Linked DNA regions of Homo sapiens. The protein of the gene in region 4 purifies or fractionates together with the protein of the main gene of each other region. This does not show direct contact. Each region holds a gene or a part of one and is shown on either strand. Other genes may lie near its edges. The genes, in order: PKP1, SERPINB12, NEK7 and TRIM50.

Region 1 (7,753 bases), on a different chromosome or scaffold from region 4:
TGGGATTCTGTAAGCGTTATTATGGGGGCTGGGGAGGGCTGTATCTCATGCCCTGCTGGATCCAGGACCCCCATTTAGGAACCTTGACTGAGCTTTTCTCCCTTTCCCTGGCCAGATCTACAATGGAACCCTCAAGCGGGAGCCTGACAACAGGCGCTTCAGCTCCTACAGCCAGATGGAGAACTGGAGCCGGCACTACCCCCGGGGCAGCTGTAACACCACCGGCGCAGGCAGCGACATCTGCTTCATGCAGAAAATCAAGGCGAGCCGCAGTGAGCCCGACCTCTACTGTGACCCACGGGGCACCCTGCGCAAGGGCACGCTGGGCAGCAAGGGCCAGAAGACCACCCAGAACCGCTACAGCTTTTACAGCACCTGCAGTGGTCAGAAGGCCATAAAGAAGTGCCCTGTGCGCCCGCCCTCTTGTGCCTCCAAGCAGGACCCTGTGTATATCCCGCCCATCTCCTGCAACAAGGACCTGTCCTTTGGCCACTCTAGGGCCAGCTCCAAGTGAGTGCTGCTGGGCTGGGTTGGGGAGCCAGGAGGGCCAGTGGGGAGACACACCCTTAGCCTGACTGCACCCTGCAAAGGGCTCCTGGGATGACAGGAGAGACATAGCTTCTGTCCCTGGGGAGTTCATTGCCCCTGGTGTAATGGACTCCCTAATGGGGAGAACCTGGCCCCATGGGCCCTTGAACTCAAGAAGTTCTTAGTGTGAAGGTGAAACAGACATTGACTGTGTAGGTTTTAAAGGTCACAGTTTATGAACAGAAAGAGGCTAATAGTTCTCAAAGTGTGTTCCTCCAACCAGCAACATCAGCATCACCCAGGAATTTGTTAGAAATGCTCATTTGGGGACCCACCCAGACCTATTGTCTCAGAAACACTGGGAGAGGGGCCCAGCAATGCATATATTAACAAGCCCTTCAGTGATTCTGATTTACACTAGAGTTTGAGAACCTCTGATCTTAGGCATGTAAATCTCTATCCATGTTCTGAAAGAGCAAAGGAATATGCCCCGGTATGGACGACGGGAATAGAATGGGTTTCAGGTTACGTTATAAGACAGGTAAATCCAAAGGACAAATAGGACAAATAGACATAAAAACTGAGGGACATGGCCTGGGTGTGGTGGCTCACGCCTGTAATCCCAGCACTTTGGGAGGCCGAGGCAGGAGCGGGTAGAGGGTGCTTGAGCTCAGGAGTTTGAGACCAGCCTGAACAACATGATGAAACCTTGTCTCTACAGAAAAATACAAAAATTAGCCAAGCATGGTGGCGGGTGCCTGTAGTCCCAGCTACTCAGAAGGCTGAGGCAAGAGAATCACTTAAGCCCGGGAGGGGGAGGTTGCAGTGAGCTGAGATAGTGTCACTGCACTCCAGCCTGGGCAACAGAGTGAGACCCTGTCTCAAACAAACAAACAAACAACAACAACAACAACAAAAACCCTGAGGGACTTCATGGGGCTTCATGATCTACTGCTACAGAACAGAGCACAACTCCTGTGCATACATGTGGAAGGCCATCACCCAGAGGAAACAAAGGAGACCAAATGGGGTGCCCCGTTAGGAGCCATAGACGCAGAGGTGTCGTGAGTGACACTGAGCCTGCCCTTCAGGGCTGGGGGCTCCCTGAACCTTTGAACTGTCCTTCATCACCACCTACTGCTCTTGTTATTTATTTATTTGGCAAATGTTTGCCGACCATCTACTACATGCCAGGCTCTTTGACAAGTGCGGGAGACACAGCCATGATAGGGACAACCCAGAGCTGTTCTGGAGCTACACAATTAACTCCTTTTCTGAGAGCCTCAGGAGCTTTGCATTCTTCATCTTTAATCCTCACACCCGCCACCAGGCAGGCATGAGTATTCCTGAGGAGAAAACAAGGCACAGAGATGTTAAGTAGTTTGTCCAAGGCCACACAGCTGGCTCTCCATCCTGTGCTCTTCCCTACTGGTACCACACTGTTCTGAAAATAAGCAGAACCCCGTTATAGAGCTAGACGTTTCCGAACTACCTGATGGCCGTAAGGCGTATTTAGGATGATCTGGAGAAGAACTAAGAAACCTCTCTGTCTTGGAGGCTGATCAGGGCAGCCTCTGGCTTCAGCTCATTGTCCCAACCAGAGGCCCTGAGTGGAGGTTCTAGGTGAGATATGGAAGGGATGAGTGTCAAGCCATTTTGGGGTGACATTTTACTGATGAATGCAGGGTGACATTCTCTCAATGCAGGCAGCAGTACTACTTACCCAGTGCCAGAGAACTCTGCACCTCGGGTGGTTTTCCTAGAAATGAAGTTGGGCTGCTATAGCTAAAACCATGGGTATTTATTGACCACCAAGTATGTCAAAGCATAAGGATAGGGCTCCCTCTTTGAATGCTGGACACAGCCAGTCACCACCCTGTGACTCTACACCAGGGGAGCTGGAGAGGTTCTTAGAAGAGAGGTTTCCCTTCCCTAGGAAGGCTTCACAGATGTGGGGCATCAGCAGGGCCAGTGGTGTGCCTTGAGGCATGCCTGAGACCTGGCCAGGGTACAGTGAAGGGGACAGTCTTGCTGGAGCAGACCCTGGATAGGGGCTGGGGAATGTTCATAGTGGAGCCGGGTTATTAGGTTAAAACATATGAAATTTCTGGTTTTATGGCTGAAAAAAGGTTGACTACAGACATTTCCTATGATTCAACCTAATACCTGCCCTTGGACATCAGGCTAAGCTGTTTAAACTTGAACCTGAAGTATGGAGAAGCCGCTGATGGTTTCTGAGCTAGAGAACAACACAGTGAACTGGGTTTTAGAACCACTTATCTAGTAAAAAGGGTATGAAATTTTAGATGGGGGAACTTGAGGAAGAAAGCCAAATATGGAAGTCCCTTGCTGCCTTTAAAGTGATCAAGATCAGGAAATTGGTGGCTATAAGAATGGGAAGAAAGGCTAGATGTGAACATTTTTGTGTAAGAGCCAGCTGGACTTGGGGATGGATAGATGGATGGATAAATGGATGGATGGATGCATGGATGGACAGATGGACGGACAGACGGACGGATGGATGGACAGATGGATGGACGGATGGACGGACGGACGGACGGATGGACGGACGGATGGATGGATGGATGGATGGATAGGATCATGGCCATTGTCTTCCATTTTCCTAATACCAGACACAAACAAGAGAGATGGCAAGGTAGGTGGGAAGCTTCCCCTCAGGGAATAGGGAGGAGTTTTTCCTCAGTGGAGAGATAACATACCTGCTAGGACATTAACTGTGACCAGGGGCTCACTATTCTCACATGGGGCAAATCCAGTGGGTGTAGCCTTCCCTCCTCTGGAGGAGAGGAGCTGTTCCCAGGGGTATTCTCCAAGTGGGCCTGGGCTGCCTTGTTCTGGCTCTCCAGAGGGCAGATGAGGCTGTGGCAGCTTAGTGTGCTGGGAGGAATTCTGAGCCCCCTCAGCAGGGCTCCCAGCCCACCCCGTAACCACCCCCACTGCCTATTCTTCACAGGATCTGCAGTGAGGACATCGAGTGCAGTGGGCTGACCATCCCCAAGGCTGTGCAGTACCTGAGCTCCCAGGATGAGAAGTACCAGGCCATTGGGGCCTATTACATCCAGCATACCTGCTTCCAGGATGAATCTGCCAAGCAACAGGTAGCTGGTTGCATACCTTCCTCCTTGGTGGGCCTGCGGAGGGCCTGGGTGTGTCAGCCTGACTCCGCTTTTAGAGATGGGTGAGGGCATCTGCAGTTGGCTTCTCTTGCCTTGCCCAGCTGCCAGGAGCCTTCGCATTGCCCAAGGTTAGAGCTGGGCATCTTAACTTTCTGCAGAGCAAAGCCCTCTGTTTAAGTGGACATTAGGCAGGTACAATTCCTCCATTGGTCATGGAAGAGACTTCAATGCCAGCCACGGGTTCAACAGAAACCCCTTTTCTCAAATCCCACTAAAGAACATGACTGCTCCTCACCTCTCAACTCCTGCCCTCCTACCTGCTTCCTCTCTCCCACTCCCCTTCTCTCTCCAGGCATCTTACGGTAGAAAACAGGCCTGTTGATGCCTCCAAAGCTTTGCTGGCAGGAAGGACACTACAGGGTTCTTCAGTTCAGCCCAAGGATGTAGTGTCAAAAATGAGTTTCCCAGAGTCCCGGATAAGTTTGTATGCATTTCTATGTCTGTGTTCTGCTTTAGGGTTTTGAAATGTATTTACATCCACTCTCTTATCAGGTCCTCACCATCATTCTCCAGAGGAAGAAAGCAGGACTCAGGAAAGAGGAGGGACCCTAGCTGAGGTTCTCCCAGCTAGGATATGGGAGCTAGGATATGGGAGCTAGGATCTGAATCCAGGTCTTTTGCCTCCGGGTCTGGGTCAGTTATCATGACCTCACACTGCTTATTTATTTTGGTTGACTTGAATATTTCTGAACTGATAGATTTTTTGGTCTGAAAAAAAAAATCACCTTTGAGTAGAGAATAACTAGATCAGCCTCATCTCCCTTGACCAGGCAGCGTGGCAACTCTTTCCTGGCAGGTCTATCAGCTGGGAGGCATCTGCAAGCTGGTGGACCTCCTCCGCAGCCCCAACCAGAACGTCCAGCAGGCCGCGGCAGGGGCCCTGCGCAACCTGGTGTTCAGGAGCACCACCAACAAGCTGGAGACCCGGAGGCAGAATGGGATCCGCGAGGCAGTCAGCCTCCTGAGGAGAACCGGGAACGCCGAGATCCAGAAGCAGCTGACTGGTAGGACAACACGGCCACCGAGAGCCAGCCTGAGGGCTGTGCAAGGCCACTGGCTATGGCCCCAGGCTGGGGTGCAAGCCTGTCTCTCCAGGCTGGGCCAAGACACAGCTGTGCAGATTTGGCCCAGGGCTAATATCCTGAGAGTTTAGTGACACTGGCCTTGGCCCAATTAGGGGTGTCCAGAGGGTGACCTTGGGTGGTGTGCACACACAAGGGGTCACCATCTTTTTGAGGTTAAAGAGCAAAAGGAGGAAGGCTGATGTCCAGGCAAGATCCATATTCCACAAGCCCTGGGATTCCCAGGTGATGGAAAGAGAGTAAGACTGAGGGGAGAAGGGGTTAACAGGCCTTAAGCACCTACCCTGTGTTCAAGAAATATGGTAGGCACTCAAGGTGGGGGGCACAAGAGGAAGAGGTCACCGTGAAGACCTAGAATTGGGCTGGGAAGATCAGACCATGTACAGAGTAATGACTGATAAGTATTTCTGGCATAACTTTCAGATGGAAAAGAGACAGCGTTAGAAGACTCCAAGTGCTAAAATTTATACTAAAAACCACTGATCAATCAAACGTTTTTTGATCACTTTCCACATGCATAATTTTGGCCTTGACAGAGAACTCTGAGATGTTCCCTGCCTGCAAAGAACCTTCAGTCTGGTTGGGGCATTGAGAAATAGCCTCATGACACAGACAGACAATAGGTTCTACAGACCAGGGCTACCTGGAAAGCGACATTTCAGTAGGGCCCATTTGCCAGAGTCCAGGCTGGGGCTGTTACCTCGGTCCCTAGGGCATCCTGAGCCTGGCACAAATTGGGTTGATGGTCTCTGACCCCCAGGGCTGCTCTGGAACCTGTCTTCCACTGACGAGCTGAAGGAGGAACTCATTGCCGACGCCCTGCCTGTTCTGGCCGACCGCGTCATCATTCCCTTCTCTGGCTGGTGCGATGGCAATAGCAACATGTCCCGGGAAGTGGTGGACCCTGAGGTCTTCTTCAATGCCACAGGCTGCTTGAGGTGAGAGAAGAGGATACATGGGGTCTTTTTGTCCCAGCCTTGGGCCCTTCCCCAGGCAGCCCCATCTCAGCCAACATTCAGCCGGTGCATAGAACATAACAGACAACCCGGCACTCCCTCTTATGGGCAGGCTCCAAGACACAGGGACTCAGGCCTTCCTAACTTCCCTGGAACTGGATAAGGCCCAGGACCCTACCACCCCCTTTGAGAGAATGCAGCGGACATTAGTCAGAAATCTGAGCTTGAAAATGCCTAGATCTGAATATCCAAACTGGTTCAACCATTTCCCTCCTCCACCCCATGAAAAAAAATGCATTTCTTGTGCTATCATCTTGAAGAGTGTTCTTTTAGACAAAAGTCTACCGATGGGTTGCTAATGAGTCACTTCCCAGCTGTGGTGTTAAAACCATTTGCCATGTTCATTGGCATGAAGATGGCACTGCTTCACCCAAAGTTGCCTAAGTTCCATACCAGGGTGTGGCAAAGCCCCTGTGGGGCTGGTGGGAGGGCTTGTTCTAGAAGCAGTGGTTTACAAGCTGGCGAAATGGGTGGGTGTGGAGGGGCGGCTGGTACAGGGCTTGGAACCCTGGAGCAGGATCCCTTTTAGGGTCTTTAATGGGGTTTGTCTTGCTTTAATGGGATTTGTCTTTCCCAACTCCTGAGAATCCCCCCAGAGTGGTGGGTGCAGCTGGCATGTGCCTCTGTGTCTCAACTTGTGTTTCTCCCTGCCAGCCTCCGGTAGCAGCCTCCAGGAAGCAGAGAGGCTGGGGAGATGAAAAGTGAGGATAATTAAGAGTTTTATGGGGTTGATGTGCTACTGGTAGCAACAGCAGCCACACCCCACCTGCACCAGGCTGATGAGCCCACATTGCTTGGGGATGAGCCCACATTGCTTGGGAGTGAGCCTACTGCTGGGGGCAGAACACAGCTTGGGTGGAGAGGGAGCTTCTGGTGCCCAGCCCGGCCACCCCCAGATCCACTTCTGATCCAGCATCAACAGGGCTTCTTCCTGTCCCACAGAAAGAGACTGGGCATGCGGGAGCTTCTGGCTCTTGTTCCGCAAAGGGCCACTAGTAGCAGGGTGTGAGCCTTGGGATGCAGCTGCGGAGGGACCGTTGCCACATGGAGCCATTGCCAGTTATAAAGTTACTGGGCAGAGTGAAGGAGGAGAAGAACTGAGTGCAAATGAGACCTCATTTCAGCCTCAGCCAGGGCCAGGCGGAATTGGCTAAATGGTTTCTCTTTCCTTCCGTTTTCATCTTTTCCTCTCTTCATTCCTTTCCTCCCTTTCCTCTTCTCCTTCCTTCCTTCTACCACAACTTCCAATCTCCACCCCGTCGTCTCCTCTCTGCCCTCCCCTCTCCTGCCTGTTCTCTCTCCTGCCTGTCCCCCACCACACTCTCTTGTCCCCACCTTCCCCGTTCTCTCTTCCCCCTTTCTCTGCCCTCTTCCACCCTCTTCTCTCCCCCAGGAACCTGAGCTCGGCCGATGCAGGCCGCCAGACCATGCGTAACTACTCAGGGCTCATTGATTCCCTCATGGCCTATGTCCAGAACTGTGTAGCGGCCAGCCGCTGTGACGACAAGGTGAGTGCATCCCCTGGTGGCACCCTGACCCCTAGGCCCAGCCCCCTACATTTTCTGGGTGCCTTTGAGGCCTGGCCCAGTGACAAGACAGGAGCACAGACTCAGGGGTGGTAGAAGAGGCATCTGGATGCAGGGCTCAGTGGTGGCTACAGGAGTGGGCTCTGGGGACAGCGTGCCCATGCAAATCCACTCTCCCTCACTTAGAAGTGGAGTAGATGCAGCTGCTTCCCTAATCTCTCTGTTTCCCGGTTCACTCTTCACTCTAATGGAAAGGGTCATAATCATATCAACCTCAAGGGTTGTCTGAAAGGCTTGATTAGTTAATAAGCAAAACACGAAGAGGGCCTGGCACAGAGGAAGCTCCCAGCGAGCATCTGCTGGCTGTGCTTCATTGGTGGTGCTGAGGCCTGTCCTGTGACCCC
Region 2 (7,714 bases), on a different chromosome or scaffold from region 4:
ATTTAATGATAGATCTTTAGAGAACAACACTGTCTACTATCTACCATCTCGAGGAAATTCAGTACCTCAGCTGTCAGAGACATCAAGGAATGTGTAAGAATCTGAATTAGATTAGATATTTATTCCTCATTTGTTTAGAATTAAACAACAAATGCCAAAAATATTGGGATTGGAGTTTCTTCTTTAATCTCATAGCTCTCTGCCACTGTTTTAGCAAATCAAGGAATCTGGGTTCTGAGTAACTTGAAAAGTTTTTAAGTTTTCCCTTTTCTCTGAATATTCTGACTTCTGGCCTCTTACTCATACCATTTTTCTATAGCTCAGTTAATTAAAGAATTAACTGAATACTGTTTTGGGGAATATGTACCTTGACAGAAGTGTAGAGAGTGACAACAGAATTGATTGCTTGTGAGGTAGGAATTCATAAAGGCTGGAGAAGCTCAGCTACAGATTGTCCAGGGGGGTAAAGAGATAAAGATAGAAGGAGAGAGAAAGTGAGAAAGGAATACCAATATAGCAGGTATAGTAGTTACAACATCAATAACAACCATTATTCAGAATTTGCTATGTGCTATCACTGTGTTAAGTTCTTTATATACATGATTTTATTAATGCTTGCAAGAACTTAATCATATTATCTCTCTTTTATGGAAGAGGAAATTTAACTTCAGAAAATGAGGGCTTGGCCACAGAACTCAACTAATCGACTGAGCTTTGCTGTGCTTTGAACACTTGTCTCTCAAACACCAGAGCACACTGGAACCTGAGTTGTCCCCTAACTTCTTCTAAAGAGGAAAGATATTTGCTTGAAGTTTTAAATGAAATCAGACTATTCTCTAGCTTAGGGAAAGGTCTTGAAGGTTGTCACTGCCCACTGAAAGGGACTCAGGCACCTTGAAGTAATTGGGGCATTCTTTGTGGTCCCATAATCTGATGCTAAATATTATTTCCTTCCTCTTGTAGCTTGAAAGGAAAATCACCTATGAAAAAATGGTGGCCTGGAGCAGCTCAGAAAACATGTCAGAAGAATCGGTGGTCCTGTCCTTCCCCCGGTTCACCCTGGAAGACAGCTATGATCTCAATTCCATTTTACAAGACATGGGCATTACGGATATCTTTGATGAAACGAGGGCTGATCTTACTGGAATCTCTCCAAGTCCCAATTTGTACTTGTCAAAAATTATCCACAAAACCTTTGTGGAGGTGGATGAAAACGGTACCCAGGCAGCTGCAGCCACTGGGGCTGTTGTCTCGGAAAGGTCACTACGATCTTGGGTGGAGTTTAATGCCAACCACCCTTTTCTCTTTTTCATTAGACACAACAAAACCCAAACCATTCTCTTTTATGGCAGGGTCTGCTCTCCTTAAAAGGGGAGCAGTGTCTAGTACTTTGGAGCTGGAGGAAAATATCAATACAATCTTCCCCTGGCATAAGATGGGCATTTGAGTTTTTGGTAATATCTAAAGCATCTCCTTCATCCTCCAGCCATCGGCTTGTGCTTATCTTGATCTTTCTGTCACCCTGTAGCTTATTTTCATCTGAGTCTGTTAGTATTGAAGGGCTGTTGTTCTCTACCCTAAACTTTCAAGCATATAAATTCACCCTCTGTGACCTGAAGGTCAACACAATTCAGAACAGTACCTACCTCCTTTTGAAGGAATCCTAAAAGTTCAGGTCATTAGACCATTTCTAAGAGATGGCAAACTCAGAAGCCACTTTAACATGGGCAGCAAGAGAACATGTTTGACTGGAACGTGTTTGGAAACTCAGCTCTGTTTCTGGGGTAGTTTGACCGGAACGTGTTTGGAAACTCAGCTCTGTTTCTGGGATAGTTATGATTGTGGTCATCACTGGGCGAGATGCCCTGTTTCTTCCTTTGACAGCTACTGCATGGAAGATGTCCTGTGAGGTCTTTTCACCTAGGACAAGGCAGGGCTTGGGCGTATTTAAGTGATAGCTCAAAGATGTGTGACTGCCCCAACCAGCACTCATTTTGCACAGAGCAGGGGAATGATATTTGTCTTGTGATTTTGACACTGACCCAGGAAAGTGGCTAGTGGATTTAGAGGAGGTTTATCTCAGTTTTCCTTATTGAGTCCCCCAACATTATCATCAAACACTTCCCTCTGTCTCTCCTCCCCCTAGCTCCAAGAATTCCCACCTGTGGCTAGCTCCTTTTATGCACCCAGCACAGGCAGGTGTCAAGAGAAGTGCTGCTGGCATTGTGGACGGCTGGCCTCCGTATGCCCCTCTCTCTGCCTTCTGGCCACGTGGAGGCTGGCCTCTGTGTGCCCCTCTCTCTGCCTTCTGGCCACGTGGAGGCTGGCCTCCGTGTGCCCCTCTCTCTGCCTTCTGGCCACGTGGACTTTTGTGTCTTCCGAGAGGTCTCATGCCAGACCACATGGTGACAACAGGCTTGAGCCTGGGCATGGTGTCCATAGCAATGCTTGTTGGCTGGGCATGATGGCTCATGCCTGCAATCCCAGCACTTCTTGGGAGGCCGAGTCAGGTGGATCACTTGAGTCCAGGAGTTCGAGACCAGCCTGGGCAACATATTGAGACCCTGACTCTACAAAAAATACAGAAATTAGCCGGGCGTGGTGGTGTGCACCTATAGTCCCAGCTACTCGGGAGGCTGAGGTGGGAAGATCACTTGAACCCAGGGGATGGAGGCTGCAGTAAGCTGAGATGGCGCCACTGCACTCCAGCCTGGGTGACAGAGCGAAACCCTGTCTCAAAAAACAAACAAACAAAAAACCCAAAAAGCCAAAACAAAACCTGAAACCCTTGTCAAGAAGGCCATTGGGCTCATCTCAAGCTCTAGTCTACTGAAGGCCTGACCTCTGAGTGTTCCTACTCGCGGACTCAGGGCCTCTGTTCTCTGGTGTGGTAATCTGAGTTCCTAATTTCTATCTTAGCTGAATGTTCTGCCATGACCACTGACACGTCCAACTCACATCTCTTTGGAGTCAGTCTCTTTCCTATCGAGGTGGGTTTCAGGTCTTGCTTGCGGCTCAGTTTCCTTGGCCCACCTTGTGGCTGTCCTCCTCCCAGCTGCCACCAGTCGTTCAGTGTGGCCACGCAGTTTTTTTGCAGAAGGCAGGTGAACCACACCTGCTCCCATGCTAGCCTCCTCTTCCTTTTCTCACCTACCCCAGTGATTTCTTTGTGCTCTGAGAGACAAGTTCCATGTTCTCCATACAACCTTCTCATTGTTGAAGCTCACTTACGACCTAAAACAATTTGACGTTGGTAACGTGAGGCAGTTTGAGGCAGTGCCCTATCCAGAATGCATGTCCCATGGGTCAAATTAATTTCAGATAACCAAAAACTTCATGTCCCCTGTGGTTCCTTTTGGGGTTGACGTTTTGGGGGCTGTTTCCATGTCTGACTTGGCACCACTGCCCGACACGTAGCTGGAAACCATGACCTATATATAGGCCTGCACTGCCCGGCATTTCTTTTGTTCTTATTCTTTTACTTGGTAAACACATTTTTTTTTCATTTACATCGGGATTTCTCAGATTTTGAAGCATGAGAGGGAGAATGTATCTATTTACAATAATGAGGAAAATTAAGAATCTTAAATCTTTATGTAAATCAGTAAACATTCTTTACTAACCTTTGATTTATTAAGAAGTTTCTTCTGAATGAATAAAGCACTTTTGTTATTAGTTAAAATATATACGATGTGTTGCCAACTGATTTTTTTAGGGATATAAATTTAACTTCAAACTGTTTCATCCAAAAATATAAAAATACATAATCTATGAAACTAACAATTCATCTCAGTTACACAGGAAAAATACATCTTGCCCCAGTAATAGTTTCTCCCAGCTTTCCATCATAATTACATATGAAGGCATATAAAAAAGATGAAAACTGACAATGCTAAAACCAGAGTGATAGCCAGCTGATCATCAGAATATAGAAGACATTTCTGCCGACTACAGGTTTTTCTTTTTTTTTTGTTTGAGATGTAGTCTTGCACTGTTGCCCAGGCTGGAGTGCAGTGGTGCAATCTTGGCTTACTGCAACCTCTGCCTCCTGGGTTCAAGTGATTCTTAAGCCTCAGCCTGCTGAGTAGCGGGATTACAGGCGCCCGCCACCACGCCCAGCTAATTTTTGTATTTTTAGTAGAGAGGGGGTTTCACCATGTTGGCCAGGCTGGTCCTGAACTCCTGACTTCAAGTGATCCACCTGCCTTGGCCTCCCAAAGTGCTGGGATTACAAGCTTGAGCCACCGTGCCTGGTCCCTGCTGACTACAAGTTAACGAGGCTGGGCAGTGAGGCATTGTTGAGGGGTCACCTGCATCTCATTGCCAGTGAGTCAGTCTGCCTGTTTCCTCCCATTGCTGCCTTCCTCTGAGTTCAGAAACACATGCTGTCTCTCAACTTGAATTTTAGACGTCTATCTCTTTATTTTGTACTTGCTGCTGTCCTTCACCCTCTGTCTTTCTTATTAGTTAGTTTCTTTTTTTCTGCAGCCATTTGAAGACTGAATGACTTCCCAATTATGACTTGGGAGAAGGTGAGGACAGGCATTTGTTCTTTCCATCCTAGGCAGTTTAGTCATCAGCAATAAAATACTTTTGGTGGAGCCAAGGACAGGAAAAGCCTTGGTGGCAGAGTTCTTGGATATTTTATCTACACTGTCTGTCTAAAGTGTCCCAGACCCAGGCCATACAAAGAGGAGAATATTTACCTGAGCCCAGCAGAACTACACTAGATGGAAGACTTTCAGACACTGGAAATTATGTTCCAAATAGGGAGACCTTGACTCTTCATTTTTCTTGCACCAGCAAGATTGACCCAGCAATATGGTGCCCAGGGGTAGAAAGAACATACAAGTCCATAGGCTGATATAATTGCTGGAAAGCCAACCAGAGCATGATTTTAAATCAACAAGAGAATGAGCTCCCCACTTCCTCAGTTTAAGGTTTTCTCCATATAGCAATGTTGACAGGTAGAACAGATGAGGTAATGTAGATTCAAAAACAATTGTTTCACTTATGCTGACTGTAAATATTCTGGTAAGAGAAACATGGACATATAGTACTCAACAGGCTCCCTAATAGATACAGAATCTGTATGTTCAATTGCATTTCAATTCAAGTCCTCCTTATAACTTCACACATTGTCTAGCGCATACTCCTCAAACTCTTCTGTAGTTTTTTTCCTTGAGCTGCGACAAGCCAGAACATGTGTTGCTTCATTCCTAATTGCTGTTTACAGATTTTGCATGCTGGTATTTTTAAAAATTACACTGTCATTAACCCGAGGCGGAGGTCCAGTTGGAGCAACAGGGTGAGGAATCTTGTGCAGTTGTCTCAATGGATTTCTTTGCTCCACAGTTGAATGCCAATTCCAGATGTGTTCTTTATCCACACCACTCGTCTTGCATTCTTCGTTTCCCAAATCCATTTTATTTTCTTCTTACTCAATTAAAAGAATCCAAATCCTTTCTTTACCCAATAAAAACAGAAAATATCCCCAAATATGCATACTTAAGTATATTAAGCATATCAATATACTTATTAAGCATATTAAATAATAATATATTCATAGTATTTACATTAACTGTAATATATACTTGATATTTAATTTATAAATGCTCATATTCTAATGCAATAAATTTCCCATTTAAATACTGTTTCCCTTCATGTGCTTCAACAAAGTTTTAGCTACAGAGAGGTGAAAAGGATTTAAAAAGCAATCCAGTGCACAACAGCGGGGCTGAGAAACTTGCACACCTCTTGTTGACACACATAGGTCCTGAACAGATCATTCCATGTTCAAGATTAAATAAGTAGAAACAAAAGTATAAGGTATGAAAAAAATCAGTGCCAAATAAGAAGAGATATATCATGTTATAAATGAGAGAGAGAGAGAGAGAGAGAGAGACTGACTTCATAAAATGATTTACAGCAAGAACTGGAAGAAGCTTTTAGAAAATATGCCCAAAATGCATATTAATTTTGGGCATAATTAATAGGATTTAAGAAGACACAAAATCTATGGAATTGGAGTGCAATGCCACAAAGATAAACTCTGATAAGATGTGAAAAAGCTAAATGAGATGAAAACAGACCACTAGGGAACAAAAAAATGCAATAGATGCCATAGAAGAATTTAAATAGAATTTAAAGGCAATAAAGAAGCAAAACTGACATGCTGGAAACTTTAGTTAGTGATGAATAGGGTGTATTTGAGTGTGTCTCTTAGAATGTATAGGAAATAATAAGAGAGAAGTTGGTAGATATAAAGAGAGAATAGAAAGTAAACCCAACAACTATGGTGTTTCTCAGGAAAAAAGAAGACTAATTGGCATAAAGTCAACAATCCATGACATGATGGAAGAAAACCTTTTTAACTTGGATAGTCACAGGATCATACCGAATGATTCGCCCTCCCCCTGCAGAGCAAAAACAGACATGCTGAAAAACTTTAAAAGATTGAGAAAGTAATCCTATCAGCATTTGGGCAAAAAAAGAAATAGTTATAATGTATAAAGGATAAAAAAAATCAGATGAGCATCAAATTTTGTTTTGTACAAAATTTCTGAAGATAGCGAAACTTAGTGTGCAGGTCTGAGGGAAAATATATGATTAAAGAATTTCATATCTAGGCTGGTTGGCTTTTGTGTATGCATGGAACAGAAAACCATTCTCAGATCTATTTTGGTGTATGCGAATGCAGATATATTTTATCTTTAGCTCCTGACACCATGCTGTAAACATCACAGGAATTAAAATTAAATGCATGTTGTTTTGAGTGGCATCCAATGCAGTCAAAGACTCAAAAAGCTAGTGTATTAATCCATTTCATACTACTAATAAAGACATACCCAAGACTGGGTAATTTATAAAGAAAAAGAGGTTTAATGAACTCACAATTCCACATGGCTGGGGAGGCCTCACAATCATGGTGAAGGAGGTAGCAAGGAAGGCAAAGGAGGAGCAAACTCATGTCTTACATGGTGGTGGGCAAGAGAGCATGTGCAGGGGAACTCCCTTTTATAAAATCATCAGATCTCATGAGACTTGTTCACTATCACGAGAACAGCACAGGAAAGATCTGCTCCCATGATTCAATTACTTCCCACCACGTCCCTCCCATGACACCTGGGGATTATTATAATTCAAGGTGAAATTTGGGTGGGGATACAGAGCCAAACCATATCAGCCAGTAAAAAAATTCCTTCAGTAAAACTATGACCTCAATTGATAATCAATGGAAGAAGAGAAATTCCTCATTTAGAATTCTCACTATGCCCAATAATTGTTGGCAGCTGTGACTTTTCCCCTTAGCACTGGTTTTTTTTTTTTACAATGTTGGGTTCAGGCATGGAATGAGTTTCAATATCCAGAATAAGACTGCAACCATGAAATATCTGAACTGGGACAGTAATAACACTAATACTTGTGCTTATTGTGTGCCAGCTTTTGTCGAAGACCTTTATGTGCCCATTTAACACTCTCACTCATCCTAAGAGGTGGGTTATTATACTTATCCACCCTTAACAAATGAGGAAACAGAGGCACAAAGAGATTAAGTAATTTGCCTAACATCCCTCAGACAGCAAATGATTGAACTAGGATTTTTAACCAGGCTGTCTGGCTGGATGTTATACAGAAGATATATCACCACCACTCAATGAAAGTATCAAGAAGTAGAAGTTCCCAACAAGGTTTGTAAGCCACTAATACACTT
Region 3 (7,753 bases), on a different chromosome or scaffold from region 4:
GGAAAGAAGAGTGTGTGCGCTAAATGCATGTTACTTCTTGGAAATCATAAAGGGATCTGAGAGCCTACAGTATATGGCAACATTAACCAATCTTTTTGAAAATTTACCTGTATCCCATCATGGTTCATTTGCAAAAAAATAAGATGGTACCTTAACTAATAAAACAATTTTGAAATTCTCTGTACCAACTTTGCTTTTCTTTCTCTCTTGCCTCCTTCTTCAGTGCTTCCCTTCCTGCTGATCATTGAATTCATTCCTCCAGTATTTATTGGCCACCTAGTGTTTATTGGTCAGTGTCTAAGGCTTTAGGAAGATTAAGATAAACATAATGAGACTCATGGGATTCTAGTGGGGGTACAACAAAGACACCTCTAACATAATGAGATAGGCACTCATGTGATAGGAGCAGCCTTGAAGAGAACAGGTGTGAGGAGGAGCTTAGGAAAGAGGCTTCACAGAGTTCGTGAGCTGGGTCTCAAAACTTACGTTCTTTATGTTGGAAGATTATCAAAAACTTATTTTGATCTGGTATATGCAATCTCTATTTTATTATATTTTGCTCATTGATTAGAGCTATAGGAATGAAGTTGGTTTTTATTTCATCAGTCTGACATAGTGTTACAGTAGTGTGAATTTTGGGTCTCACTGTTTCTTAGTTCTTTGACCATTGTACTCTCATTTTTAAATAATACGTGAGGTATTTTGATCCTTTGTTCATTAATGCTTAATTTCGCTTTGCTTACTCTTAACTATATTTCTAGATAACACTATTTTACTGTGTGGCAGCCATTGTCAGTGAGTTTTTTTTAGGAAGAAAAGCTAAAATAATACTTTATGTATTTATACAAATAAACATAAAGTGATAATATTGTTCAGATTTACCTTTTGATTCAGGTGATCTCAAAAAGTCTTCCCCAAAGTATTCTTTGATATTGAATGCTTACCTTTTATTTACTTATGTTTGTTAGTTGCTTTAAAGTATTTTTCAAGCAAATAACTTTTTAATTTCTATTAATAAGTTACTTTTTATCATCTTAAGTTTAGATTCTGCATGTTTGCATATAATTAGAAATTAGGATTATATATGATCAGAAATTTGTGGACAATGATAGCACTTCCATAATACATAGGCTGATTTTAATATATTCGTAACCTCTGTGGCTCTGCCTTCAATCTCTTTTTCAGTGTTCATTGTGATTAATAAATTTATCTTGCAGCTTTTATGAACTTCATTTAATCTCTATAGACTTCCTTTCAGATTTCCAATTGTTATTTGAATAAATGAAAACTAAGCATTTGTAAGAATAATTCATAAATGACATTTAAAAGATACAGAACAATTTGGTAAATTAATGTTAGTTTTTACTTGTCAAGGTGGAATAGGCTTTTATCTTTAAAATTAAAGCTTTTTAATTTTAATTACTTGTACTTGCAATCTTAAGCATTTCTAAGCAGATAAGAAACAGAAAATTTCCAGTTTTATGGATTGTTTAACATTTTGGGGTTAAACTACTATATGGCAGACACTGTACTTGACAATAGGGACACAATAGTGGGACACAATAATTAAATCCAACATTTTTGTGTGGAAAATAGACAATAAATCAAATAATTATAGCAAAAAATAAATCAAATAATTATAGCCAAAAAGGAAATGACCATGCTGTGGTATTAGAGACAAACTAGAGGAGGAGAGCATTTTAGATAGAGTGTGCAGCAAAGGCCTCTCCGAGGATGTGAAATTTAAGCGTAGGTGGAGGATAAGGAGTCAGTCATCTGAAGGGTAGTGACAGGAAGGTTCCAGCTGTAGAGCCGGGCACGGTGACTCAACGCCTGTAATCCCAGCATTTTGGGAGGCTGAGGCGGGCAGATGACGAAGTCAAGAGATCAAGACCATCCTGGCCAACATGGTGAAACCCTGTCTCTACTAAAAATACAAAAATTAGCTGGGTGTGGTGGCACACGCCTGTAGTCCCAGCTACCTGGGAGGCTGAGGCAGGAGAATCGCTTGAACCCGGGAGGTGGAGGTTACAGTGAGCCAAGATCACGCCACTGCACTCCAGCCTGGAGACAAAGCAAGACTCTCTCAAAAAAGAAAAACAACAACAACAAAAACTTGCTTAGTATATATTTTTAAGTACTTTGTTTTCTGCATTTTAAATGGTCTTTCTTCTAACAATTTGACATATGCCTTTTTAAGGGGATATTTCTGTTAAGTTACTAGAAGGATTTCATTTCCTTTTAAAGAAATCTAGTGTTAACCTTTTCAGTTTCATTAGCTATGAGTAATTTTGGCAAAATTTTAAGATGACAAAAGAAAACCTTTAAAATGATTCAGAGAATACCAAGAATTTATCAGTCATTACTTGCCTAACCACAGCTCATCCCTTGCTCTTACCAAGTATAAAATGAGTTTAAAAACCTGAAGAAACTTTGGTGGAGCTGAATGAAAATGATGCCTCCTAAAGACTTGTTTGTACATATTATATGCAAGATATTCTTACAAAGTCCATATTTTCACCCAAGACATACTGCTTTTTCTTGCTCATGAAATCATCGGACAGCTTTGAATCTGTGTTTGGGAATGATGTAATCTAAATATTCATTATTATTTATTTTTGTCTTGACTTGTTGGCTGAGAGAAAAAGAAAGATAAGATACTTCTGAATTTCCAGTTAAATGTATTTGTAAATGTATTTTGCTCAGAATTTAGTTTTGCTTTAGATGTGCCATCAATGCTTATTTCTCCCTGTGTTTGAGGAGTGACTTTTGATATTATTGAAAATTCAGTTAAAAATAAAAGTCAATTTGTAATTCTAAATTAATTTTTATAACTTGAATTAAAGATTTTCTATGTAGCATGTTTCTATCTTGATATGTTGTATCTTGTTATGGTTTCCTAAAACTCTTATACATCTATTATTCATTCTTATCTCACTCACCCTCTTTTGTTTTTAAAAATGTTGTTCCACATCATAGAGACATTGATTACTGAGAGATTAAATACATATATGTCTCCAAGTTTGTGATTTTCTTCATTTTAATTACTGGTACTATATGGGCATTATTCTTTCTCTGCCTCCTAAAACAAACAAACAAAAATACCAGGAATTACATCAAGATCTGATATACTTACAATTTTGTGCTTTCCAGTATATCTTTGATTTATCTCAAATTCCTTGTAAATAGCATTTCCTGAGAATGGCATCAGCATTTATGATGTGTCAAGAATCAGTTATTTCTCATGCCATTTTGATTTAAAGTGCAAGTAGTCTGTGTGTGTGTGTTTCATACCTATAACTAATATCAAGTTCAAATTTTTCTGTTTCCATTAGTGTTTGTTTTATTGTTTAACATGTTGATATAATAATCCCTTTGGGGGAATGAATGGCATTTCTATGTGAAATTGCTAAATGTAAAGCTTATTCCTTCAGTTCAAGAACTTTCGATTTTACACACACACTCACACACACACACACATATATATTTTCCTGAAGGGCATTACGCATTCCTGCTTATATAAATCAGTTATTGAGAGCCCTTCCAGCCAGCCATGCTCACCCCCATTAAGGTTCTTACATCACTTTGAACAAGTAGCACTTACAAGTTGCGTGTTAATTTTCTGTGTTGCAGTCTGCATTCTGCATCTGACACTGTGCATCTTAAAGGACTGCAAGATGGTTTTCTTATTTGTATCTGTAATAAAATCTGATAGTAAGATGGCATTCAGCATGGATTTTTATATGTAGAAAGGGTGGGCATTAACAGTTTAAGCTTGTCTGTACTCAGGATCAGGTTATTCATATTAATAATTTGTGTGTAGAGTTAAAACTATGATGCTCTTGGAGAAAATTTCTGCAAGGTTTTTCCTTCCTTCCATAAATAGTGTCATATGGTTTGTTCTTTAATACTGGTAATTTTTTTAACCCCTGCTATTGGTGTCCATTTATATCTAGCTCATTTTGTCAAAGCTTAATGTATACAACAGCTTAATGTTAGCTAAAACATATCTTACTAGATAGTTTATGTGAACTTTGTGATAGTGATTTGCCACTCATAGTCCTTTCCTTTTTTTTTTTTAACCCCTTTTCCTTTCCTTGCTGTTGTTTCATCGTGTTGCATTCTGTTCCATTCTGAAATCATGGTAGTTAACATGAGTTTACTGTGGCTGACATGGTTAGAATTACTGCTAATGGAAAAAAGAGAAGTTAACTCTCTTTAATATATGTACCGGCATACATATTTCTTCTTCTGTTATTTGATTAAGTGGGAGAAACTTTGATGTAATCTAGTCTGTCTCTTTTTGTAAACCATCAAGTAAGGTAAGGCTTTATATTTTTTCAAATCTTAAACTGCAGTGCTCAATATTTTACATTAAAAGTTGCAGAACGTAAATTTGATACTTGAAGTTTTCATTAGAAGTAGTAGAACCAAAATAATGTTAGTGAAAAAGCATATATATCATTTTATATACTGCTATTTTCACTATGCAAAAAGCACATGCGTTTGTACAAGAAATAGAAGGGACTGAGCCAAAGCTAAAATTCTTTAAGGCAGTGAGTTTATGGATTTTATTTTTGCTTTATAATCTTATCTAATATCTTCATATGGTTTTTTAAATTAAGACAAATTAGAACTTTGTGTATCTTTGGATATTAAGAATGATATCTAGAAAAAGTTGCCTCTTATAAGCTGTAATTTTACACCCTTATTCCATATTTACTTTTATGCAGTAGATATCTTTTGTTTCTGACTGGCAGAATCCTATAATTCTTTCAAGGTTCACCTCTAATGGTACCCGCCACCCTACATGGAAGGAATTTCTTCCTTAGGTTTCTAATACTACACTTTGTACACACATATATTTTAATACTTATTAGCTAGTTGTGTATGCATTAGACTTTGTGACAGCCTGGCTCATTGAGAAAACACTGACTATGGAGCTAGAACAACCTGGCTTCAAGTCCTGATTCTGTCCTTTACTAGTTTTATGATCATAAGCATATTATTTAATCTTTTTGAGCCTCAATCCTCATCTTGTTATTGTGGCCAATACTACCTGTCTTATAAGATTGCAATGAAGTTTAAAGCATCATGTGTAAAGAGGCCAGCCCTCTCTGGTAGTGTCTAATAACTACTTCTTTAATTAAAAAGACTTGGATTCTGCCACTCCTTTGACATTGTACCTTCTTTTCCTGGAATGTTAGCTGGCTGAATCAGGAAGACTTGATCAAGCTGATTACTAAAAATGTCATTAATTTTTTTATTTGTTATGTAACTAGGGTTTTAATCAGCTTGCAGTACTGACTTAGATTTTTTTTGCAGTCTCTAAGATATTGCTTTTTTAAATGTTATTTTCCACACACTTAGAACCTTGAGAGATTTGTGTTTTCAGAGACACATGAAATATCTTTTTGATTGTATTTTTTATTTTTATGTTTTTAACAGTAGGTTAATATTTTTCAACCTTTTCTTCATTATCCTCCCCCCAAGCTGCCTGTTTAGACATTTCTTCCTAATTACCTCTACCCATGAAATTTTAATTCCACAAATACAGTATATCTGTTTATGTGTAGTACTGTATGTGTATCTATACTTTATACTTAATAGAGTAAAATTTTGTTACCCTTCTCCACAAAGAACCAATTTTCACCCCCTTGGAATGATATCACCCTTGTCAAGAATGCATGCATCAGACCTTTTAGACATGATTTGATGGAACAGATTAATGGTTCAGTGCTTGGGTTCTAGATGGATAACTCTGAGAATGAATTCTGCTTGCTCTGTTGATTAGCTGTGTGACCTTTTGTCATTCTCCTTAGCTTTCTAAAGCTTCTCTTCTTCATCTGTAAAATGGGAATACTACTATTATCATCCTCATAAGGTTGTGCAGTACATTTAGCATATATTAATTGCTCAACATATATTAGCTATTACTTTATCATCTTAATAATCACAACTTTAATTTTGTTCATTGGAACTTAAGACCTGAGTGTTAAGGGGTATCTACCTGTTCTCTTTATCCATTTTTTAAATACTGACTGCTGAAAATGTAAGCAATGTTGGTAACATAAGATACCTACAGAACTCCTTAATAAAGAAAAGCTAATCAGAAAGAAAATTCCTTAGTGTACAAATAATTACATGTAGAGTATTAAAATGAATTTACACAATAGCTTGAACCATAGGTTATTATTTTATTAAGTAATTCTGGGTTCTGTTTTTAGATATTTGATTTAATGGATGCCAAAGCACGTGCTGATTGCATCAAAGAAATAGATCTTCTTAAGGTAATTAATGAACTGTTGACTCTTTTGAACATAACATGGTGATAAAAGTGATTTACTAAAATATCACACTTAAACACAAAAAGGTTTTTAAGACTTATGCTACACTGATTTCAAGTAATATTATATAAGGTTAAATTTCAGTATACTGAAGAATGTAGTTATTTTTTGGATTTATTGTTAAATAACATAATCAGAACATTTGTAGGACCAGCTTTTTTTTCTCATTTCAAAGTAGGAAATAGATAAAATGGGCATAAAACATTGAAGAATTTTTTTTTCTTGACCACCCCAACAAGACATATTCTAAAGGTTAAGTAATATAAATGCAAATTAGCATTATCTCAACATGTATTATATTGAGAATGTGGACTAATCAAAATGGTTCACATGCATTTTCTAATGTTTCAATACTTTTTCCAGACTTAGACAGAGTGCATGTAAAGAGTATGCCAGGAATTAGCTTTTTAGTTTCTCATCTACTAAGAATATGACTGAGATTTCAGTTATTTCTGCACTGCTTCTTTTATAGTGAAGTTTCTTTTGAGAAATACTGCGGCCTATGTTGTATTTTTAACTTTTAGTTAAGACTTCGCTCTTTTTTTATGCCATCCGTTTGTGTTAGTGCCTAAAATGAACCAGATTTATGCAAAAAGGAAGAAAGTAAGGTCAAAACAATGTTTTCTGACTATTCTGTTAGTTGTAGTTATTTCTTGGCACATGAAGTAGCTGGCTTAAATATATGTAAACTTTTACTGTGGAAATAGCATGTCATCATAGAAAATTTGCAGCGAAAACTTTAAGTAGAAAGAAGAAAGTCACCCATACTTTCTGCATAATTTCTCAGAGAAACAATTCATCTTGTATTAATATGTTTAAAGATTGAACAAAAGGATTGCAAATGAGTAGGGACTGATACGTATATTTCTACAAGGTAAAATTTTTCTTAGGGATGATTTTATGAATTGGCTCACATGAATAAGTCCTGTATGTTATTTGATATAAAAGCAATAGTTAGATATAGTATAGTAGGTACCAGCTGTGTTTTGTCTACTAGCTGGAGTTATTCTAGGACCAACCATAACTTCCAAGTAGGAGTAAAAAGGGATACTTTATTTATCATTGAGTGTTCCTAAATGAAAGTTCTCATTTTGAGGATGTAATTTTTAGCAGTTGGCGACCTAATTCTATCATTTACTTCTTGCATCTGTTGATATGCTTATTGGGCATAGCAGTACTTTTAAATTAAGATTTAAACGTAAAATATATTCTTTCTAATAAAGAATATTAAGATAAATTAATTTATACCTAGTTTTACTTTTAATAATTGTAATATTTGTTTCACAATTCACTAAAGAAAAGTATACTGTCATGTTAAGATTTCTGTAATTTAAAAAATACGGTGAAGTTTGTTCTTAAGTACAAAACTATAAGTGACTCTTGGATATTTACAGTAAGAAAACTTT
Region 4 (7,276 bases):
AGAGGAAGGACAAGCGCAGTGACTCACACCTGTAATCCCAGCACTTTGGGAGGCCGAGGCTGGCAGATCCCTTGAGCCCAGGAGTTCGCAACCAGCCTGGCCAACATGGTGAAACCCCATCTCTACTAAAAATACAAAAATTTGCCAGGTGTGGTGGTGCATGCCTGTAATCCCTGCTACTCAGGAGGCTGAGGCAAAAGAATTGCTTGAACCTGGGAGGCGGAGGTTGCAGTGAGCTGGGATCATACCACTGCACTCCAGCCTGGGCAACAGAGCAAGACTCTGTCTCAAAAAAAAAAAAAAAAAAAAAAAAAAAAAAAAAAAAAATAAGAAGCAGAGGAAGATTAGACCGGCACATACAGAAAAGGCCACGTGAAGACGGAGGCAGAGATTGGAATGATGCGGCCACAGGGCCAGGAAACACCAGGGCATGGCAGCCACCACCTGAAGCTGAAGAGGAAAGGGGCAGGTTTTCCCCGACAGTCTCCAGAGGGAGCGCGGCCTTGCCGTCATCGTGATCTTGGACATCTGGCCTTCAGAACCATGAGAGATTAAATTTGTTTGAAGCCACCAAGTTTGTGGTCATTTGTTACAGTAGCCACAGGACACCACAGCCACAGGATAAATCTCAGGGATGGGGGAGTAGGAAGATCATGAGCGCGGTTTTGGACATGCCCTTGACGTCCAGGCGGAGCTGCTGAATGGCTGGAGCGCTACTGGATGTGGCATGTAAGGGACGGGTCTCCCGGAGAGGGAACTTCTGAGTCATCCCTGTGGAAGTGATGACTGGAGCTATGGGTGTGGAGGGGTAGACAGCCAGAAGAGGAGCCTGGAGGTCCTCAGGCCATGAGTGGCCAGGAGGAGAGGCTGAATCCTTGAAGGAGACTGAGGAGAGGAGGGAGGAAAGTCAGGATTGTGGGGAGGCTGAGGGTTGCTGTTTGCCCCAGCTAGTCTCCCTCAGGCCCTCTTATTGGTCTGTGCACCCAGTTTGACTTCCAGTGGCCAGAGCCAGCATCTTGGTTAGAGGGCTACCCCAGAGCTTCCAGGACCCACTTAGCCTGTGGGTATGGTGAGTCAAAGGGGCATGACAGCCTAGGCACAGTGGCTCACACCTGTAATCCCAGCGCTTTGGCAGGCCAAGGTGGGAGGATTGCTTGAGGCCCAGACCAGCCTGGGTAACATAGCAAGATCCCGTCTCTACTAAAAATTTAAATATTAGCTGGGTATGGTGGCAGACACTTGTTGTCTCAGCTACTCAGGAGGCTGAGGCAGGAGGATCACTTGAGCCTGAGAGGTCAAGGCTGCAGTAAGCTACAATTGTGCCACTGCTCTCCAGCCTGGGTGACAGAGCAAGATCCTGTCTCTGAAACTAGACTCGAGGCTGGGCACGGTGGCTCACGCCTGTAATCCCAGCACTTTGGGAGGCTGAGACAAGTAAATAATTTGAGGTCAGGAGTTCAAGACCAGCCTGGCCAACACAGCGAAACCCCATCTCTACTAAAAATACAAAAATTAGCTGGGTATGGGGCACATGCCTATAATCCCAGCTACTCGGGAGGCTGAGGCAGGAGAATCACTTGAATCCGGGAGGTGTAGGTTTCAGTGAGCCTACATCGTGCCACTGCACTCCAGCCTAGGTGACAGAGAGAGACTCCATCTCAGGAAAAAAAAAAAAAAAAAAAGACTCGAGCATAAAGCAGTATGTATAGCAACTAATATGTGCAAATCATTTAAAGAGAAAGAAATAATGTCAAATTTATTATCCTTGATAGTAGTTGAAAGTTCACAGTAATATGGAAAAGGTATACATGGGACTATTTCTGCCCTCGGAAGCGTCTGCGCAGATAGCATGGTTAGCAAGTGGCAGGAACCATGGGGATTTCAGTGTGTCCCTGGCTGCCAAGGCCTGGGGGCCGAAGTTTACAAATACACCCTTGGCTGAGGGGAAAGGGACTGGGGTCCTGTTCCCTATCATTACATGTTCCAGGGACACACAGGCCTGAAGACCTTCCTAAACAGTGACGATATCACCTCAGGCGGGACCCAGCAGAAGCCCGCGAGTCCCCGGTGCCCCGCCGGGATGGGCCTGTGGGCCGGCAGGACTCCGGGCGGCCCTACAGCTTGGTGGGCTGCTCGGGGCTGAGGGGGCCAGGCCCGCTGGGCGGGGGCAGCACCATGGGCAGCGAGTTGCTGCCCCTCTCGTGCCAGCAGGTGTCCAGGATGGGGTAGAGCTTGCCCTGGAAGTCGGCCTGGAAGGTGTAGAGCGGCCGCAGGTCATCGGGGCGGTCGGCATCGAAGAAGGTGAGTTCGCCCTGCTCATAGTGCAGGTAGAGCCCGATGCGGTGGGGGTGGCCGGCCACGGGCAGGGGTACCCGGGGGCAGGCAAAGGCTTCGTACACCCGGCCCTCCTTCAGGCCGATCAGCCACACGCCGTGCTCGGGGGACCTGTTCAGCTTGCCCTTACGGCTGGCTGTGCCCTTGATGACCCCCAGGCGCCAGTCGCTCTTGCTGCCCACCACCACCTCCCAGTAGTGGCGGCCGCAGGAGAAGCCGCGGCTGGCCAGGACGCAGGTGCTGTAGTCGAAGCGCTCAGGCTGGCTGGCTCGCCGCTGGGCCAGAAGCCCGCACTGCACCACCGTGTTGCCCTTGGAGAGCTCCAGGAGTGGGTGGGCAGTGGCAGGGTCCAACTTGAGAGGCTCCGGGGCTGGGAGGGAGATCACAGAGGGTCTGTGAGGCCACGTGGAGGGCAGCAGACCCGGCCCACAGAAGCTGATGGAGGCCCTGAACTCCCCAAGGAGAGGGGCTGTGTCTTCCTCATCTCTCTAGCCCCAGGGTCTAGAAGGGGCCAGTACAGGGCTGCTCCCTGAATGAATGAATGAATGAATGAATGAATGAATGAATGAAGTTTTACATAAGGAAGATCAATCACAGACTGATTGCATCCACCCAAGGCAAAAACAGTGTTTATATAAAAGGGAGCAGCTTGGTGGGCTGTGGGGGGCTGAGGTGGCTGGAGAAAGAAATGGACACTGGGCTCGGGGTTCTGGCCTGCCTGCCTGACACAGAGGTGTTGTGGGAAGGACCCGGAAGACACCTGTCCTGTGAGCCTATAGCTCAGCCCTCAGGGATTTCTGGAGAACCCATAACAACTGCAGCTGTTGGATTTGCTAGCCTAGTCAGCCTATTCAAGGACGAACTAGCCCACCTGAGCTTTTTGCTAGTTACCAGCTGATCCGTTTACCCCAGAAATGTGAGATGTGCTCCCCCCTGCCCGCCTCCCACCCCTTCCCGCCACCCAAGTTGCCGCAAGGAAAGAAGGCCAAGGGGAAGAAGGTGGCTCCGGCCCCTGCTGGCGTGAAGAAGCAGGAGGCCAAGAAAGTGGTTTATCCCGTTTGAGAAAAGGCCTAAGACTTTTGGCACTGGACAGGACTTCCAGGCCAAAACGGACCTCGCCCACTTTGTGCAATGGTCCTGCTCGGTCAGGGTGCAGTGGCGGACAGCCATCCTCTATAAGTAGCAGAAACTGTCTCCTGCTATTAACCAGTTCACCCAGGCCCTGGACCGCCAAACAGCTATTCAGCTGCTTAAGCTGGCCCAGAAGTACAGACCAGGGGCAAAGCAAGAGAAGAAGCAGAGACTGTTGGCCCTGACTGAGAAGAAAGCTGCCAGCAAAGGGGATGTCCCCACTAAGAGGCCACCTGTCCTTGGAGCAGGAATTAACACCGTCACCACCTTGATGGAGAACAAGAACGCTCAGCTGGGCCAGGCACAGTGGCTCATGCCTGTCATCTCAGCACTTTGGGAGGCTGAGACAGGCAGATCACTTGAGGCCAGGAGTTTGCAAGCAGCCTGGCCAACATAATGAAAAACCCCGTCTCTACTAAAATACAAAAATTAGCCGGGCGTGGTGGCACACGCCTATAGTCCCAACTACTCAGGAGGCTGAGGCAGAAGAATCACTTGTACCCAGGAGCCAGAGGTTGCAGTGAGCTGAGATCACACCACTGCACTCCAGCCTGGGTGACAGAGACTCTGTCTCAAAAAAAAAAAAAAAAAAAGGAAGGCTCAGCTGGTGGTGACTCCACGCAACATGGGTCCCATCAAGCTGGCTGTCTTCCTGCCTGTGCCTGTGTGTAAAGTGGGGTCCCTGACTGCATCATCAAGGGGAAGGCAAGACTGGGATGTCTAGTCCCCAGGAAGACCTGCACCACTGTCGCCTTCACACAGGTTAACTTGGAAGACAAAGGAGCTTGGGCTAAGCTGGTGGAAGCTACCAGGACCAATTACAACAACAAATGTGATGAGATCCGCCATCACTGGGGAGGCAGTGTCCTGGGTCCCAAGTCTGTGGCTCACATTGCCAAGCTCAAAAAGGCAAAGACTAAAGAAACTACCACTAAACTGGGTAAAACGTACACTGTTGAGTTTTCTGTACATGAAAATAATACAAATTTTCCTTCAAAAAAAAAAAAAGAAATGTGAGATGTACAAACAGGATTCACAGTTCACAAACTGCAATTTTTTTCCTTCTTATCTTTCCTTTTTTTTTTTTTTCATTCTTTTCTTTTTTACTGATGAGGTCTCCTCTGTCACCCAGGCTGGAGTGCAGTGGTGCAATCATAGCTCACTGCAGCCTCCCAACTCCTGGGCTCAAGCAATCCTCCTGCCTCAGCCTCCTCAGTAGCTGGGCCCACAGGCACATAACACCACACCCCACTAATTATTTTTTGTAGAGATGGCGTCTCACTATGTTACCCAGGCTGGTTTTGAACTCCTGGCCTCAAGCAGTCCTCCCACCTTGGCCTCCCAAGGTGCTGGGATTGCAGGCGTGAGCCGCCGTGCCCAGCCCCTTCTTTTATATAAACCCTATTTTTGCTTTTGGTGGATGAAATCGCTCTGTTAGCAGTCTCCCTTATGTACAAGACAGCATGCTAGTAATAAAGGAATGAAATGTGTTTGAGTTGTTTTTGACAGAGAACAAGAATAGGTTGGTTCAAAAGTAATTGCGGTTTTTGCCATTACTTTGAAGACCACTTGTCCTTTGAGTAGGAAGGACATTTTTAAAAGGATATTACTTTTTTTTTTTTTTTTGAGACGGAGTTTTGCTCTTGTTGCCCAGGCTGGAGTGCAATGGCACGATATCAACTCACTGCAACCTCCACCTCCCTGGTTCAAGTGATTCTCCTGCTTCAGGCTCCTGAGTAGCTGGGATTACAGGCGCACACTACCACGCCCAGCTAATTCTTGTATTATTAGTAGAGACGGGGTTTCACCATGTTGGCCAAGCTGGACTTGAACTCCTGACCTCAGAAGATCCGCCCTCCTCAGCCTCCCAAAATGCTGGGATTACAGGCATGAGCCACTGTGCCCAGACAAAAAGTACATTACTTTTAAAAGTAATGGCAAAAACTGCAATTACTTTTGCACCAACCTAATACCATTTATGAAGCACTAAGCTGCAACACACGTATGTCTATATACAAGCTCTGCAGCCTGGCCGGGTGGGTGCAAATAGCCCCACTTTACAGATGAGGAACCTGGGCTCAGAAATGACACAACTTGCCCAGCCAGCAGCTAGGAAAGGAAAGAGTAAGCAGGAACCCAAGCTGTTCGGAAACTCAGTCCCATGCTCTCACTAGGACCCTCCACAAACCTCCATCTGAGTTCTCTGTAGCTTATTATCTCTCTGATACAATCGATGAACTGCCACCTGCCCTGGGCGGCAGCCCTCAGGAAGGAGGACGGGTCAGGGCCTCACCTGGCAAAACTTTCCGGAAGAGCCTTTTCCACACGGTCAGCTTGATGTCAGCCTGGTGGAGGCCTGGCTTGAAGGAGATGGGGCTGAATGCGCCTTCTAAGGGCCGGGCCTGCGGCATCTCTGCTCTGCAGGTGACAGTTCACAGTACAAGAGAGTGAGGTATCACGTGGCCCACCCCACCCCTCCATCCTATCTATGTTTGCCCAGCCAGATCCACAGTGCAGGACTGCAGTCACAATGCCCATCAATGCCCATCATCCCCTCCCCTGCACAGCCCCTTCAGGGAGGACCCATCTCCTTCCTAGAAGGGGAAACGCTCTATAGTGGTGCTTCTAGAGTGCAGGTTTGGGGACCAGCAGTGTTGGTTGGAAAATGGTCCAACCCATTCCCAGTAGAAAGTCAATGGTCCACCTGGGAAATGGTCAGAAATGCAGGTTCTTAGACCCCACACCAGACCTGCCAATCAGAAACCAATTATGGGGGCCAAGTAATGTGTCTTTTTTTTTTGAGTCAGAGTTTCACTCTGTCACCCAGGCTGGAGTGCAGTGGCATGATTTCGACTCAGTGCAGCCTCAACCCCCTGGGCTCAAGTGATCCTCCCACCTCAGCCTACCTAGCAGCTGGGACTATAAGCATGTGCCACCATGCCCAGCTAATTTTTTTCTATTTTTGGTAGAGACAGTTTCACCATGTTGCCCAGGCTGGTCTTGAGCTCCTGAGCTCAAGCAATCCACCCACCTTGGCCTCCCAAAGTGCTGGGATTACAGCTATGAGCCACCATGCCAAGACTTTTTTTTTTTTTTTTTTTTTTGAGATGGAGTCTTGCTCTGTCGCCCAGGCTGGAGTGCAGTGGGGTGATCTTAGCTCGGTGAAACCTCTACCTCCCAGGTTCAAGTGATTCTCATGCCTCAGCCTCCCCAGCAGCTGTGATTACAGGTGCCTGCCACCACACCCAGCTAATTTTTGTATTTTTCATAGAGACGGGGTTTCACCATGTTGGCTGGGCTGGTCTCGAACTCCTGACCTGAAGGCATCCTTCTGCCTCAGCCTTCCAAAATGCTGGGATTACAGGTGTAAGCCGCCATGCCCAGCCTCTGTCCCTTCATTTAAACCCATGTCTTCTGACCAAATTGTCTCTAAGACTAAAAGAAATGTGAGAAACACGGAGTCTCCCATAAACAGGGAGTGAGGAAGGCTTGGGAACTGCACGTGTTCGTTTGTTGGGTCTAGAACATGGATCCACTCTCTTCCCACAATCTGCAGAGCAAGTTTCAGGCAGGGCTGATACTGCCTGCTGCGCAAGGGTGAGGAGGGTAAGCAAGGGATGCCCGGTGCTCCTGGATGTTGCTTCTGGCCATTTCCCACCTCTCCCAGCTCCGACTCCTGGTGATATCCTGCCTTACACCCAGCCACCCTGAACTCATAACCAGAGTCCACATGCCACTCCCCCTTTTACAGGACCGTTTCCTCGGCTTGCCTGGCAAACTCAGGTCCTGGGTCCTTCTCAGCCATCAGGCC

What was found.
Region 1: the proteins of TRIM50 (region 4) and PKP1 purify together in Homo sapiens (affinity purification with mass spectrometry, with the first as the bait; one study listed by BioGRID). This does not show direct contact.
Region 2: the proteins of TRIM50 (region 4) and SERPINB12 purify together in Homo sapiens (affinity purification with mass spectrometry, with the first as the bait; one study listed by BioGRID). This does not show direct contact.
Region 3: the proteins of TRIM50 (region 4) and NEK7 purify together in Homo sapiens (affinity purification with western blotting; one study listed by BioGRID). This does not show direct contact.

The regions. Positions count from the first base shown.
Region 1 is NC_000001.11:201,313,051-201,320,803, forward strand, and holds part of PKP1 (plakophilin-1), read left to right. Parts: intron 1-115; coding exon 116-510; intron 511-3,502; coding exon 3,503-3,647; intron 3,648-4,521; coding exon 4,522-4,729; intron 4,730-5,567; coding exon 5,568-5,745; intron 5,746-6,765; coding exon of another isoform or gene 6,766-6,828; intron 6,829-7,216; coding exon 7,217-7,331; intron 7,332-7,753. UniProt on the Homo sapiens protein: A component of desmosome cell-cell junctions which are required for positive regulation of cellular adhesion.
Region 2 is NC_000018.10:63,565,644-63,573,357, forward strand, and holds the end of SERPINB12 (serpin B12), read left to right. Parts: intron 1-963; coding exon 964-1,368; 3' UTR 1,369-3,686; downstream 3,687-7,714. UniProt on the Homo sapiens protein: Inhibits trypsin and plasmin, but not thrombin, coagulation factor Xa, or urokinase-type plasminogen activator. May play a role in cell differentiation.
Region 3 is NC_000001.11:198,256,348-198,264,100, forward strand, and holds part of NEK7 (serine/threonine-protein kinase Nek7), read left to right. Parts: intron 1-6,227; coding exon 6,228-6,290; intron 6,291-7,753. UniProt on the Homo sapiens protein: Protein kinase which plays an important role in mitotic cell cycle progression. Required for microtubule nucleation activity of the centrosome, robust mitotic spindle formation and cytokinesis.
Region 4 is NC_000007.14:73,310,807-73,318,082, forward strand, and holds the end of TRIM50 (E3 ubiquitin-protein ligase TRIM50), read right to left. Parts: intron 5,884-7,276; coding exon 5,759-5,883; intron 2,864-5,758; coding exon of another isoform or gene 2,823-2,863; exon of another isoform or gene 2,705-2,822; coding exon 2,115-2,704; 3' UTR 1,730-2,114; downstream 1-1,729. UniProt on the Homo sapiens protein: E3 ubiquitin-protein ligase that ubiquitinates Beclin-1/BECN1 in a 'Lys-63'-dependent manner enhancing its binding to ULK1. In turn, promotes starvation-induced autophagy activation.